Linked DNA regions of Homo sapiens. The protein of the gene in region 2 interacts with the protein of the main gene of each other region in a pairwise test. Each region holds a gene or a part of one and is shown on either strand. Other genes may lie near its edges.

Region 1 (2,797 bases), on a different chromosome or scaffold from region 2:
CACTGGGCCCCACTGGTCTACCTCTGATGCTGGTACTGTCAGTCATCTCCCATGGACCCCTTTGGCCACGCTTGCCGAGAGAGCACTTGTGTGCTAACCTGATCTAAGCCCTTTATATGAATTACTTTAACAGCTCTAAGAGGGAGCACTGTTAACCCATTCAGCTGACATACAGCTGAAGAAATGGAGGCTGGAGAGGTTAGCACTGGCCTGGCCCTGGCGTCTGTCTCCCAGGTCCTCCCTGTTGACCACTCTGCCTTTCAGCTGAGCATTGTACACACACTCAGCGCATCTGTGCGTCACACACCCATGGTTGGTGGCAGCTACAGCAGGTGTGTCCTGTGGATAGAGGGGGTTTTGTTCCAGCTCTTAAGGACAGGGCCAGCACTGTGTTCCTCAAGTGGGTTTGGGCCCTGGCAGACCCTGTGATTGTGGGAGTTCTGTGCTGTGTCTGTGGGTGGAGGGGATGGGCAGGAAGAGACAGCAGGGAACAGCACTGAAGGGTTCCTCCCTGGTGCAGAGAGAATTTGCGCCCATCTGTTGGGGGCTGGATGTCTTGGTCATTGGGTGGTGCTGAGTGACAGCTTCATGAAGGTGCCTGGACATGGGGAGATGTGAAATCAACCTTCTGGCTGTGTTCCACAGCTCCCCATCTCTCCTATGAGAGAGAAAAAGTCTTCTGTTTTTTCTAGACGTTTCTTGAACAAAAGTTCTGAAGATGATGCGGCCTCAGAGAGCTTCCTCCCCTCGGAAGGTGCGTCCTCTGACCCCGTGACCCTGCGTCGAAGGATGCTGGCTGCCGCCGCGGAACGGAGGCTTCAGAAGCAGCAGACCTCCTAGCGCTCCCTTGCCTTCCTCAGCTGCCTCCTGCGCCCTGTGCCCGACTGACTGGAGGAGGCCTGTCCCAATTCTGCCCGCTCCATGGAAAAGCGGGCTTGACTGCATTGCCGCTGTATAAAGCATGTGGTCTTATAGTGTTTGGACAGCTGATAAATTTAATCCTTCTTTGTAATACTTTCTATGTGACATTTCTCTTCCCCTTAGAAACACTGCAAATTTTAACTGTAGGTATGATCTCTTCTGGTGTTGACTGGACTGCTTGGGGTGGGGGACGATCAGGAGGAAGTGAGCAGTCGCCTGCCTGCAGCAGGCAGCTTCTACTCCTGCCTCATGCGTACGTCCCACAAATGCAGGTGTCCTGAGCACCACACCCAGTGGGAAGAGTGTGGGGGAGGCGCACAGTGTGAGCCCGCCCCCACGTCGTGGGGTAACATCTGTTATCAAACTGCTGTCGTTGTTGTGGAAGCATGTAGACTGTGCCAGAGGCCAGACCCACGGGCTCATGCACCCCTGAGCCAGCAGGGCATCTTGGAAAAGGAACTCTTGGTTCGATACCTGGAGCAGAGGAGGGGAAAGTCCAGGGCTATAGGGTGTGATGAAGTCACCCCTTTCTGTCCCACTACATCTGGGACTGACTTTCCGAGCCTCCAGTCCAAAGCCGGCTTGATTTCCGTGAACTCTGGTGCTCCTGCATCTCATGAGTGTGCCCCATGGGTCCCCTCCCCTCTCAGCATTTCCTTGTCCCGTCTGGACCTGGGGAGTGGTTAGGCAGCAAGCTTTGGTTTATGGTTTTCATTCATTGGTGAAGTAAATTAGGCAGTGCTAAAGCCTGTGGGTTTGGTCCTTGAACAAGATGTGGGCCTTGCAAGATGGGAGAGTAAACCTTGAAGGGCTTTATTAAAGAAATAAAAAAGAACTTTTGTATCTTTTATCCTGGGAGCACTGCGTTTTCCTAGCTGTGTTATTCCTGGTTTAATTCAGCAGAGAAGGTAAGGTGTGAACCTACCTGCCTTGGAGAGGGCCCAGGTCCCAAATCTCTTCAAATTCTTCACATGTTTAACTTTAAGGATTTGAACCATGAAGTCATAGGTTACAGACCTCAGTTTTATGCCCCATTGGATTACTTTTTTTTTTTTTTTTTTTTTTTTTTTTTTTACTCTTTGAAAGCTTTGTTTTGTGGTAGTCCTTTTGGGAAGAATCCAGTATTATCCACAATTATTGGCAAAGTTTAAATGTATTTTACATAACGGAAAGTTTTTAGAATGTTGAAAAGTAATTGAAAAAGGTGATAGGTAAATTTTTAGGCAAAGATAATTTATTTCAATAAATCTTTCAAAAGCCTTACCTTGAAATGCTGTTAGTAAATTTCTGTGATTTTTTTTTTTAATTTGTTTTGCTGAGAGCATAGCTATTTGTTTTTATTGTAAAACAATAATAATAATAAAAAGCAAACTCTATTGGTGTGTTGTGTGTGGCTGGAAGCTAAGGCATGTTTTTGTGTGGCTGGAAGCTAAGGCATCTTTTTCCAGAGGTGCCAACGTTAAACCCCATTTTGATTTGGATTTTGTGTATACTATTTTGGTTGGAGGGTTTTTTCCCATGTTTTTGAATTGGGAACTTTTGTTTTTCCTAGTAGTGTATTTGGGGAAGGCAGAACTACATTTTTCTTCCCCTTGTATTTATATCTTTTTTTTTTTCAGGTAAGTGTGTAGCGAAAGATTATTTTACTGTCCTCGAATTACATTATACTTCACACGTTGCACCCATTGTAGGTGCCACTAATTCCACATGTTCACAGGTTTCTGATGTGTGAAAAGAGAAAATTACTTGGATCAATTTTAGAGGGTCTTGACACATTACAAAACAGCCATATCACAGTGTTTAGAGCAGGAGCTTATTAAGTAGCTTAAAATGATGCAAGAAGTGAAGTTCTCAGTCCGCCCTTCCATTTTACACC
Region 2 (4,020 bases):
CACCTTCTGTTTCTGGGCGGCAATGAGAAGCTTTGTCTTCTCACTTTCCCTGAAGAGAAGAAAAAGCCGTGAGGCAGCTATGGAAAACTCAGGAGCTTCACTATCCCCAGGTAAGTCGAATTCTTCTGCTGAAGAGAGGCAAACTCCCATTTCCTACTCCTCCTGGAAGGCTGTTCGATGGCCCAGGTAAAAGCTGATCTGTTGTTGACAGTAACATAGCTCTTCTCCTCCCAAGTAACTCATTTGTGGGAAATAAAACATAATTTAGTAAAATACACCTGCCTGTCCACTTACTGGTCTCTTGCTCCTGTCTCCACCTTGGGCATGAGTCACTGAACACAAACAAGGCCCCCTGGCCCTTTTCAAAACATCGCTGCTCTACAGGGATTATCCTGGGGTTCTCAATCACAGGTAGGGAGCCCCAGTGGTGGCCCTGACACGCCTGCCCAATCTTACAGTGCAATGGGCTGTAGCAAATCCTCCAGCAAGGGGATAACCGAGAAGCCTGGCAGCTTTGGTTACCTCTGGGATGGGACGAGGTGGGAGGTGGGAGGCAGTGGTGGTCACAGCCCAGGCGGAGGGTATACTCACATCAACTCGTAGTTTCTGCGGATTGCCTCTGGTATGTTGGGCTTTGTTACCCGCACAGCCTGGAGAGAGATTAAAACAGCAGCTGATGGGAAAGTGAGGGTAGTGAGGGACACACCCAGCTCCCACTGGGCCTTGATCTTCCTGCACAAAAAGGACATCCCTTGGGAGAAGGGAAGCAGTGTCAGAGAGAGAGGGGCTGCTCCCATGCAGCAATGCTTACTTGAATGACCAGCCCAGGGGCCATGGAGGTCAGGTCCTGTTGCAAAGCCAGTTTGAGATTTTCATCAATCTGATCTGGAATAAAGAAAAGATGGAGAAAAAGGAGTTGTTACACTTTCTAGATGAGGGAGGGCAGGATGAGGTAAAGTGCAAGCTCAATCACCAGCTCAAGAATGTACTTTCCCAAGGGAGTGTGCTTATCAAAGCCCACAAATCTAAAGATCCCCTGCCCAACTTCTGAAGCAGCCTGTGCAGGCAGCCCTCTACATGGTGAACGCAAGGGCATTTTCTTTCTGTGCCTCAAGATAAAACTCAACCTTTGTTCTGAAAATACTAACCATGCCCTACAGGGGGTGAGAGCTTAAAAAGAAAAAAAAGGAAGAACAAACAATTCTAGCACATTTCTTGCGTGAGGCAGCAGCCTTTCCCTAGACAATAGCAGCAAAAGAGAAGGAAGGTTCACAGTTTCCAAGAAGAAGGAAGGTGGAATGGCTATTTAGGTTTTGTGGAAAGAGCTGAGCACATTAAATCTAGTAATTTTAGAAGTTTCTAAAAGAAAAACAGACTTTGACGTCAAGGAGAGCCCCAAGGAAGACTGTTTCTATTAGGAACTCCATCAAACAACACAAAGGGAAAATTAAAATTTACAGTTCTGGAAGCGAGCCCCAGGCTTTTGATGTGCTGTTTGCTTTGGTCCTGATTTCTTTGTCTGGAATCCACATGAGTTGTTTCACAGACAAATGTAGGAACAGCTGTAACTGACTCTCCCCCCACCTTCCTTTCCAGCTGCAATCTCAGAACAGCAGTACCAAAGCTGACTTCTCTGGCATGGGCTTCTCAGGTTTTAGAATCCTCTTCCTTGCCTTCTGCCCATGATATCCTTGATAAGATCCCGGAGGGGCTTAGAGAAAAAGACAGAGTGAAATCAGGCTGGGACTTGTACACTGCATCTCTCCTTTGCTGTCAGCCGCCATCTGCTTTAAGTGGTCCTTTCGTGGTCACCTGTGCTCAAATAAGAGCCTCTGAGGAAGAGAAAGTCTCCGCTCTTTCACTGATGCCAAAACGGAGGCCCATGAAAGCTGGCTAGTAGCAAAAATAACAAGCTTGTTTAACTGGTGGGCCTTGATTGTTAGGATTTTAAGACAGTAGTATCAGTAAACAAGGGACGGTAACGTTTCCACATATAGGATGTGCTCTCACAAGCCTCTGAGCACCGAAGGAGAAATGCCATCAAGTCGGCACCTCACACCTGCCAGGGGTCAACCAATTTAACAACTAGAACTAAATATTACATTTCATATTTTAAGTAATTTTAAGTAGAATACCAACCAAACTTTAAATGGCCCGTATCCTCCATAAGTTAATAACGTCATTCCTCAGACCAAATTATATCTGTCAAGGTGGAAACCTGTGGCCCTGGGCTAGTAGCTTACCGGAAAAATGTGAAAGAAATACTTTTCAAGTTGTTTTAGTAATATTGATGTTTATATGTTATGGAAATGTTGATAAATGCCATTTAAATTGTATTACTAAGGTAGCCGCAGGGAAAAGGCGCAAGGCGCGCTCGTGACGTCATTTCGGCGCGACCCTCTTCTTTGCGTAGAGTTTTTCAGGTTGCTCCTGGAAACCATGCCGAAAGTAGTGTCTCGGTCAGTAGTCTGCTCTGACACTCGGGACCGGGAGGAATATGACGACGGCGAGAAGCCCCTCCATGTGTACTACTGTTTGTGCGGCCAGGTGGTCCTAGTGCTGGACTGTCAGTTAGAGAAATTGCCCATGAGGCCCCGGGACCGGTCCCGTGTGATTGATGCTGCCAAACATGCCCATAAGTTTTGTAACACAGAAGACGAAGAGACTATGTATCTGCGGAGACCTGAAGGCATTGAACTACAGTACAGAAAGAAATGTGCAAAGTGTGGACTGCTGCTCTTCTACCAATCCCAGCCGAAGAATGCTCCCGTTACCTTCATTGTGGATGGAGCAGTCGTCAAGTTTGGCCAGGGCTTTGGGAAAACGAACATATATACTCAGAAACAAGAGCCTCCTAAGAAGGTGATGATGACCAAACGGACCAAAGACATGGGCAAGTTCAGTTCTGTCACTGTGTCTACCATTGATGAAGAGGAAGAGGAGATTGAGGCTAGGGAAGTTGCTGACTCGTATGCACAGAATGCCAAAGTGATTGAAAAACAGCTGGAGCGCAAAGGCATGAGCAAGAGGCCACTGCAAGAGCTGGCTGAATGGGAAGCCAAGAAAGTGAAAATGAAGGGGACCTTGATTGACAACCAGTTCAAATAACCAGGCTTTTTTTCTGAGCCCTAGACTGGAGGCAAGCATTTAGATCAGGAGACAAAGTAACTTCTTGATTACATAGACTGGTTCCTATTTATATCCCAGCAGAAGGCTTTATGTTGTTTCCCATTGATTCTCCTACATGCAGTGAGGTCTTTAACTGAGTCCATTTGACCTGCTTTCTAGGAGATGGATTTTTCTCTAATTTTTTTTCTGTATTTAGATTTTCTTTACTATTTTTTGTCCATTTGATGCAAACTTCTTCAGCTGTGTAGAAACTTTATGAATAGATAAGTGCTTGAGTGTCTCTGGTCTCTAAAGTGGCTGGTTTTATTCTTTCTTCAAAGTTAATAACATGTTTCAAGATTTTTGGACAAAATATTATGGTACGTCATAGAGAAAAGCAGCGTGAATTATATTTAGGTATAGCAAGTCAGATCCTTTGAAGTGACTCTGTCTCTGTTCTTAGAAGGGTTCTTGGAATTGGTTGTGGTTTGAATCTTTCTACTGTCAGAGGAGACCCACTAAAAACCAGAATCTGCATAAAGCTTTCTTTACTTAACACACTGAAGCTATAGGTGAGCCATCCCATGTCAGACTTTATACTCAAAGAAGGAAAAGCCAAGTTGCAGTGAGCGGGTAAGACAGCTCAGATCCGAATGAAAATGGGGTCTGAATAAGTAACCCAAGGGAGCTGCCCTCTAGTCGGGCAGCTAGTATTGCTTCCTTGCATGGATACATAGGAGGGATACATTATAGATTAATAAATGATAGTGAGATAAACAAAATGATCTGTTGTGTATCTTTTACTTTACATTTGCTATTTACAGAGGAGTGTTGTATACATAGGTATTATTTTATGTCACACTGCTTCAGTGATAACTATATCCATGTGTTTGTATCCATGTTTTTATCCAT

The links.
Region 1: the proteins of ERLIN2 (region 2) and AMFR interact in binary tests that used the Homo sapiens proteins (3 or more experiments, as listed by UniProt).

Annotation. Positions count from the first base shown.
Region 1 is NC_000016.10:56,360,952-56,363,748, reverse strand, and holds the end of AMFR (E3 ubiquitin-protein ligase AMFR), read left to right. Parts: intron 1-692; coding exon 693-840; 3' UTR 841-2,297; downstream 2,298-2,797. UniProt on the Homo sapiens protein: E3 ubiquitin-protein ligase that mediates the polyubiquitination of lysine and cysteine residues on target proteins, such as CD3D, CYP3A4, CFTR, INSIG1, SOAT2/ACAT2 and APOB for proteasomal degradation.
Region 2 is NC_000008.11:37,746,424-37,750,443, reverse strand, and holds part of ERLIN2 (erlin-2), read right to left. Parts: exon of another isoform or gene 3,894-4,020; intron 3,891-3,893; exon of another isoform or gene 2,398-3,890; intron 886-2,397; coding exon 812-885; intron 651-811; coding exon 592-650; intron 50-591; coding exon 1-49. UniProt on the Homo sapiens protein: Component of the ERLIN1/ERLIN2 complex which mediates the endoplasmic reticulum-associated degradation (ERAD) of inositol 1,4,5-trisphosphate receptors (IP3Rs) such as ITPR1.